Regions from separate parts of the Homo sapiens genome. Here all the other regions are linked to region 1. The links come from fine-mapping of genetic effects on gene expression. A gene starts in region 1. Each other region holds a variant in brackets. All regions are shown on one strand. Distances are between the middles of the regions. Region 1 holds the start of DOK4 (docking protein 4). Region 2 overlaps CIAPIN1 (cytokine induced apoptosis inhibitor 1). Region 3 overlaps CCDC102A (coiled-coil domain containing 102A).

The links.
Region 2: its variant is fine-mapped to the expression of DOK4 in whole blood (TOPMed, PIP above 0.99).
Region 3: its variant is fine-mapped to the expression of DOK4 in lung (TOPMed, PIP above 0.99).

Annotation. Positions count from the first base shown.
Region 1 is chr16:57,485,065-57,487,710 of GRCh38, reverse strand. DOK4 (docking protein 4) reads left to right here and starts at 1,218. Exons shown (of 9, transcript NM_018110.5): 1 at 1,218-1,406. RefSeq lists a silencer at 1,038-1,337 and an enhancer at 1,169-1,965.
Region 2 is chr16:57,428,187-57,431,029 of GRCh38, reverse strand. It overlaps CIAPIN1 (cytokine induced apoptosis inhibitor 1), which reads left to right. Exons shown (of 9, transcript NM_020313.4): 8 at 691-772; 9 at 1,750-2,843. The coding sequence ends at 1,860. Among named protein-coding and RNA genes, the nearest start is that of CIAPIN1, 18 kb to the left of the region's middle. The variant T/C (reference allele first, on the strand shown) is at 1,336.
Region 3 is chr16:57,512,245-57,514,744 of GRCh38, reverse strand. CCDC102A (coiled-coil domain containing 102A) reads left to right here. Exons shown (of 9, transcript NM_033212.4): 9 at 1,875-2,500. The coding sequence ends at 2,004. Among named protein-coding and RNA genes, the nearest start is that of CCDC102A, 23 kb to the left of the region's middle. The variant C/A (reference allele first, on the strand shown) is at 1,271.

The sequences.
Region 1 (2,646 bases):
GCTGATCACAGACACCACAATGACCATCAGGGAAATTTTCAGACATCCAGAGGCAGCCTCCTTTTAAGCTCCCTGGGCAAGGCTGAGGCCCAGGCGTCTCCGGGGCAGGGGCATGCATTCCATGGGTGGGTGTTGGGATCCTTGGTCCCTCACTGCTTTAGGCCTATTCCTCTGAGACACCTGGACAGTAGCTGGATGTGGAGGTATTTTCATTTCTCAGGATTTTGGCTGTTCAGGTGGCCTATTGTTTTGTTTTGTATATATGGTCTAAAGCAGTGGTTCTCACACATTCGTGTGCATCAGAATCACCTGGCCTGTTAAAACACACATTTCTGCTGGAAACCCCCAAAAATTCTGATTTCATAGGTCTGAGTAGGGCAGGGAATTTGCATTTCTAACAAGTTTCAAGGTGATGGGAAGCTTCTGGTCCAGGGACTACACTTTGAGAAGCCCTGGTGTAAAAAGGTACAGACGTGAAAACCAGAGGGGGGACAGCTCCTCCCCAGAGGAGGCACTGGGCAACTTCTCTTGTCCCTGCCTGGCACAGCTGAGGCCTGTGACTGGGGATTCCGACAGATCAGTGAGTCAACCACTGCACAGGCCCGAAGGGCAGAGGTGAGGGGGTTGGGGGCTGGGTGGGGGCAGCAATGAAGGGGAATGAAGTTTGAGCTTGAGGGCAAAGTCTCAGGGGGACCTAGAATGGGAGAACTGGATGTTTTGAGGGTGGAGAGGAGACCAGGGAAGACAGAGGTGCTGGTGCGGCTACTTGAGGAGGGGTAGCAGAGGAGGTCACTGTGGGGCTGGGAGAGCTGGGCTGTGAGGGCCCAGAGAGTCATGATGGGGTTAGGGGAGCAATGGGTGTGTATGTGATTCCTGAAGAAGTGAAGGAATTGAGATATGGGGGCTGGGAGCTGATGTGGCGTATGGGTGTGTATGTGATTCCTGAAGAAGTGAAGGGGTTGAGATGTGGGGGCTGGGAGCTGATGTGGAGTTCAGCTTTCAGGGGCTGAGAGGCCATGTGGGCTTTGGGGCCCAGGGAGGGGCGGTGGGAATGAGCTGGGGGTACCGGGGGCGACCTGAAGCGGGTGCGGGGGTGCCAGGGCGCCAGGGCAGAATCGCGCGTCCCGCGGCTCGGAGGAATACGGCGGGGGCCGGCCGCCAGGGCGGGGCAGGGGGCGGGGCGCAGCGGCGAGACCTGGCGGAGGGGGGAGCGGAGCGGAGTCCCAGCCGGAGCCCCAGCCGGAGCCCGATCCCTAGCCCTGCGGCCGCGCCTCCCTCGCCGTCCCCGCCTGGAGCCCGGCGCCGCCGCCGCCCTGCCGCCCCCGCCAGCCGCGCCGTGACGCGGGCATGAGCCTGCTCCGCGGCGCCGCTGAGCAGGCGCTCCTGGCCCGGGCCTCGGCGCCCAGGTAAATTGGGGGGCGTGAGGCAGGGAGGGGGACATAGGCCGCCCAGAGCCTGCAAGAGTCTCGGCGACTCCCACCCCTGAGGACCCTCAGTCACTTCCTGAACCTGAGGACGCTCCGTCCCATGGGACCTTCCTACTCTCGGGTGGGGAGCTTAGAGACCCGCCCCCCAAAAGCCAGTGCCTGGGCCCTGAAACTCCCTGCGCTCTCTCCACCCGCAGCTTTCCTCTCCGGGGGAGCCCAGGTCGCGAGCTGACCTCACCCGCACCCACACAAACCTCATCCGAGCAACCCAGGCCCTGCGCTCCCGGGCCTGCCCCCCCGGAAGGGGCATAACCCAGCCCCTGGCAGCTCCCAACCTTCTCTCTGCCTTCCTGCTCCTCCCCGGGGCCTCCTGTTCGCTCACCTCCTCCAAATTCCAAGAGATGATTTTCTGTACCCCAGCTGGCCCCCACTGCCGACCCCCTCCTGCCTATGGGGTTTCTCCCCACAGCCCAAACTCATGGCCAGCTGCCTCCTGTCCTTGAACCTTTCTCCATTGGCCCCCAAGGTCCTGTCCACCTTCTCCCCCAGGGCCCGCAAGGCCCTAGATCCAGTTACATGCTTTCTATTACTGAAAAGGGGCATGAGCCGAGGCTGGGCACCTGGGTGATGTGGCAGAGCAGGGGCTCTGTGCAGCCTGCCTGCCCCAAGCCATGGGGACACGTCAGTTGCTGGGGCGCTTCCGCTTGGATGGAGGGTGTGGGTTGGAGGGGTCTGATGGCCAGGGCAGCGAGGGGCCTGGCAGTATCTCTAGGAGACTCCACTTGGGCAGTGTGAGGTGGGCTTGCTTAGGGCAGGTTCTTTCCTGGACCCTTTCAGAGGGATGTGGCGCTGGTACAGGCTCTTCCTGCCCCCACCCCCAACTCTGATCCCAGGAGCTGTGCCTCCTCTCCCCAGTTGCTTGCCTTGCTGTGCTGGTACTGGTTACTCCCAGCACTTCCCTCCTGGGCAGGGCAGCAGGGCTGGGCATGACCTCACCCCACAACCCTGGCCAAGGTGGGGCCGCCCAACTAGGCCTGGCCTCGATGTCAGCAGCATGCTCTTCCCTGAGGCAGCTCTGAACCAAACTGCGGGTCTTGGGCACAGCTGGTTCTCCAGTAACAACAGCCTGCTGGCCATGCCAGTCAGCGCTGAGACCCAGGAGCTGGGAGCCCACTGTGGCTCACGCACCTCTGGAAGCTGAGCCAGGTCCAGCCAGATG
Region 2 (2,843 bases), 57 kb after region 1:
TCTCTGCAAATAATTAAAAAAAAAAAAAAATTAGCCAGGCATGGTGGTATGTACCTGTGGTCCCAGCTACTTGGGAGGCAAAGGCAGGAGGATCACTTGAGCCTGGGAGGTCGAGGCTGCAGTGAGCCGTAATTGTGCCATGTATCTAATTTCACTCTCCCTCAAAACCCTACCAGTAAGCCACTATTGTGCCACTGCACTCCAGCATGGGCATCAGAGCGAGACCTTGGTGTCTTCACATTTGTTTTTATAAATGGATGGGAAGGATTGTAGAAAGTTAATCAGTGATGTTCATCATCAGCGTTAATCATCAGTGTTTTTTAAATGTAAAAGCTGCCAGCATTTACAAATCAGGAAATTTCAAGTGAAAACACAGATTTTTTTCCCTTCTGTTCTTGAATTTGGAAAATATGGCAATCTGGGTCCACTTTCCCCAGCATGATAACCAGCTGAAGCTTGAGTAGTGGCTGCCCTCTGTAGACAGAGCACACACGGTACTTCCCTCATCCTCCTCCCACTTCTGTCTCCCTCAGCAGCCTCTCATATTGCTGCTGTCTGCCTGGCCTATAGGCTTCTGAGTTATGACACTGGTGTGAAGAGAAAAGGCTTAAAGCACATTTTGGCACTGTTAGGATTTGGGATTTCTGGGTGGTGACAATTCTCGTTCATTAGTTACTGATTTTCCCGCAGCACCTGTGGCCTTGCCGAAGAACTGGAAAAAGAGAAGTCAAGGGAACAGATGAGCTCCCAACCCAAGTCAGCTTGTGGAAACGTAAATATCAGGATCATTCCTCAGCATTCACAAACCCCCAGGGGGATTAGACCTTCTTCTAAACTAAACACAGACAAGCTCCACCTCAAATATTTTAGTAACAGACGAATGCGTGAGCACACGAACGTAGGTAGTAATGGGGAGAGAGGCTGTCTCCTGAGAGTGAGAGTGGGTTAGCGTGCTTGTGCTGGTCAGGGAGGGTCTTGTTGCTTTTTATTTTTGGCCCATTTCTTTGTACTTCAGAGTGGGACCTGATGGTTAGACAGTTAGCTAAAGTTGGTTGTGTTTTGAACTGCATAGAATATAGAACTATGGCCGGGCGCAGTGGCTCACGTGTGTAATTCCAGCTATGCCAGAGGCTGAGGCGGGAGAATCACTTGAACCTGGGAGGTGGAGTGAGCTGAGATCGCACCACTGCACTCCAGCCTGGGTGACAGAGGGAGACTCCATCTCAAAAAAAAAAAAAGGCCGGGTGCGGTGGCTCACGCCTGTAATCCCAGCACTTTGGGAGGCCAAGGAGGGCGGATCACGAGGTCAGGAGATCGAGACCATCCTGGCTAACA[T/C]GGTGAAACCCCGTCTCTACTAAAAATACAAAAAAATTTGCCGGGCATGGTAGCGGGCGCCTGTAGTCCCAGCTACTTGGGAGGCTGAGGCAGGAGAATGGCGGGAACCCAGGAGGCGAAGCTTGCAGTGAGCTGAGATCGCGCCACTGCACTCCAGCCTGGGTGACAGAGGGAGACTCCATCTCAAAAACAAAAAAAAAAGAACTATGGCCTCCTAGGGAACTTTTCATGACTATAGTTTTTCACGAAACCAGAAATCTTGAAAACTCTTAGTATTTTGGTCTCAATTGGACCTGCAAACATAGCCATTTCCTTCAGGCCACTGTGGCCACATTATGAAATTAGGCATTTCTTTCTTCTGGCTGGTATGCCTGGGATAAGCTGACCCTTGGCTTCCCCATTCTCTCTCTCCAGTGCTACCTGGGCGATGCCTTCCGCTGTGCCAGCTGCCCCTACCTTGGGATGCCAGCCTTCAAACCTGGGGAAAAGGTGCTTCTGAGTGATAGCAATCTTCATGATGCCTAGGAGGTTCCTGACATGGGACCCATCTGCTCCTCCAGCCAACTCCTGTCCCTCACATCCCACCATGGTGGCTCCTCCCACCTCCTCTGGATTTGTTCACTCTGAGATCTGTTTGCAGAGTGGGTGCTTAGCAGACAGAGTGAAGCTGGCTGGGGGGCACAGTGGTGTGTAGTGCTGCTGTGTATCAAAAGACCAAGGTATTATGGGACCTGGTTTCAGAATGGGATGGGTTTCTTCACCTCATGTTAAGAGAAGGGAGTGTGTCCTGAAGAAGCCCTTCTTCTGATGTTAAAATGCTGACCAGAACGCTCTTGAGCCCAGGCATCGTTGAGCATTAACACTCTGTGACAGAGCTGCAGACCCCTGCCTTGAGTCTCATCTCAGCAATGCTGCCACCCTCTTGTCTTTCAGAGTTGTTAGTTTACTCCATTCTTTGTGACACGAGTCAAGTGGCTCACAACCTCCTCAGGGCACCAGAGGACTCACTCACTGGTTGCTGTGATGATATCCAGTGTCCCTCTGCCCCCTTCCATCCCCAACCACATTTGACTGTAGCATTGCATCTGTGTCCTGTTGTCATTTATGTTAACCTTCAGGTATTAAACTTGCTGCATATCTTGACATATCTTGAGATTCTGCATGTCTTGTAAAGAGAGGGGATGTGCATTTGTGTGTGATGTTGGATAGTCATCCACGCTCAGTTTGGACCATTGGAGGAACTTAGTGTCACGCACAAATGGGGCTATTCCTACGCTTAGAATAGGGCTTGTCTGCCCACTTTAGAAGAGTCCAGGTTGGTGAGCATTTAGAGGGAAGCAGGGCAGAACTCTGAACGACAATACGTCTCTCTGAGCAGAGACCCCTTTGTTCTTGTTATCCACCCATATGGACTTGGAATCAATCTTGCCAAATATTTGGAGAGATTGTGTGGATTTAAGAGACCTGGATTTTTATATTTTACCAGTAAATAAAAGTTTTCATTGATA
Region 3 (2,500 bases), 27 kb before region 1:
GTGCCGGGCCCTGAGAATGCACTTAGTTGCATTCTCTTCTTTCGTGGAATAGAGGGTGCCCGGTTCTGCAGCCAGACTGCCTGAATGGTCTGAAGCCTGGCTCAGCATTAGCAGCTGTGTGGCCTTGGGACATTTATTTAACCTCTCTGTGTCAGTTTCTTCATCTGTAAAATGGGGATGATGATAGTTCTTACCTCTTGATTGTTGTGAGTATTAAATGAGCTGATCCATTCTTAAGAAAGTACCTGGAGGCATGGTAGCTCACACCTGTAATCCCAACAGTTTGGAAGGCCAGGGCAAGAGGATTGCTTGAGACCAGGAGTTTGAGACCCCCTGGGCAACAAAGCAAGACCCCCATGTCTACAAAAAATACAAAACTTAGCCAGGCATGGTGGTGTGTGCCTGTAGTTCCAGCTACTTGGGAGACCGAGGCAGGAGGATCACTTGAGCTCAGGAGTTCATAGCTATAGTAGTGAGCTGTGATCACACCACGGTACTCCAGCCTGGGAGACAAAGTGAGATCCCGTCTCTAAGAAAAAAAGAAAGAAAACACCTGGCACATAATAAATGCTGAGTGATTGTCAGCAGCTGCTGCTATTACTACTGTTACTACTACCGCTGCGGAGGGGCTTATATTTGGGTTACATGTTGTGCATCAGCATCACGCTGCTTCTATGAGAGAAAGGAAAGATGTTTTTTCCTAGGGGGCTGGCAGATGAGGAAACTAAGGCCCAAGAGGGTAAGTCTTTCCATGGCCACACAGTTGGTGGGTGGCCAGGCAGAATCACCCCTGGCCATCAGCCATCCAAGCCCTTATTTATTGAGCATTTACTATATGCTGCTGTTTGCTGAGATCTTGTGGCTTAGAGAATGGGCTGCAGAGACCTAACAGCTATTGTGCCATGGTAAACTGAGCCTCGATTTCCCCATCTGCCTGGGATGACGCCCATAAAGTGTTGTGCAGGGGCCCAGGCGTGGGCCCAAGTCAGGACCCATGCCTGGCTGGCTCTGCCTGCTCTGACCCTGCAGCACACACCCTTCAAAAGACCACTTAGCCTTGGGGCTTTCCCGCAGTCTGGGTCACATTGTTCAGGAGCCATAAACTCCAGAAGTGGGCAGGCAGGCCCTGCTGGGCCTCTCAAGTGCTTCCATCGGGGAGGGTGGGGCCACCCAGGACCGCTGTGTCGTTTTATTTTCCAACTTTTTGTGCTTTAATGTTCCGGGGACAGCTCACTAAATCACTGTGCAGTAATGGAGGCCCCCGCCTGTG[C/A]CCCTCCCTTACGTGTTAATAATTCATGTCTTCCAGTAAGATGCAGCCGGGGCGGCCACTTTGCTGGGGGGTTGGGGGAGGGATCGGCATTTCCTTCACCAGCTCTTCTTAGACTCAAAGTTTTCCTCGTAAATTTTGACTTTAGGAATTTTAATGTGAGGAAGAACTAGGGCTGAGCCCTTTCTCACTGACACTGGGAATGTAGAGGGCTCAGCCCACCCTGCACTGTCACACCAACCAACTCTGCTGCCTGTGCTCTGAGAGCCAGGCTTGGGTTCAAATCCTGCAGCATGACCTTGAGCCAGCTCCTTCACCTCTCTAACCGCCCAGCTGCTCTGGCACCACCCACTTCAGTTCAGAGCTCTGCCCCACTCCCCACCATCTGTGTGACTTTGAGCAAATGACTTCACCTTTCTGTGCCTCGGTTTCCTTGCTTGTAAAATGGGGGTGATAATGGCACTTCTATCATATAAGGAGATTACAGGAGATGAGACAGCAGGGAAAGCACCAGGGAAGGCTTAACTGCTCCAGCACCAGCTGCAGCCACCTTATCGGGGGACTACCAGCCAGGCTGCTCTAACCTCCTGTCACCCCCACCCCACAGGCTCCGCAGGCAGCAGCAGAACGCTCCCCTCTTCGGGAAGATCCGCAGTGCTCGCTTTGGCACCGAGGAGGCCGAGGATGGAACCAGTGACCTGGACGAGGACGAGGACCTGCAAATCCAGGTGGCCTAGAGCTTCCTGTGGCTGGGCAGGATGGGCCGCCCCATACCTGCCCAGGGTCCAGGCTAACCAGCCACTCAAACTGATGCAGTGCCTAGGCTCACTCTGGGACCAGTCCCTGCCACAGCCGACTTTCTTCTCTCCCAGGGATGGCGTCAACAGTCCCACCTACCAACGCCCTGTGGAAAGGAAGCCTATGTTTTATATATATATATACACACACGCGCGCGCGCGCGCGCACACCCAGAAGTCTTTGGACCCATTTGGTTTTATAAATACAGGACAGCTCCAAGGCCCAGTCCAGATGACCTCACCCACCCAGGACTTCATGCAGGGCTGGGCATGTTGGGGGCAGTTGTTGGAGCCCCACCCTGGGCTGCCTCTCTAGGCTTCGCTGTTCATCATACAATGCAGTGAACCCAGTTATTTGTAATAAATGAAGTTCAAGTTCTTGGGGCATCTGAAAGTATGGCAGATGTGGGCGGGGGTTGTGGGGGACGGCATCGGC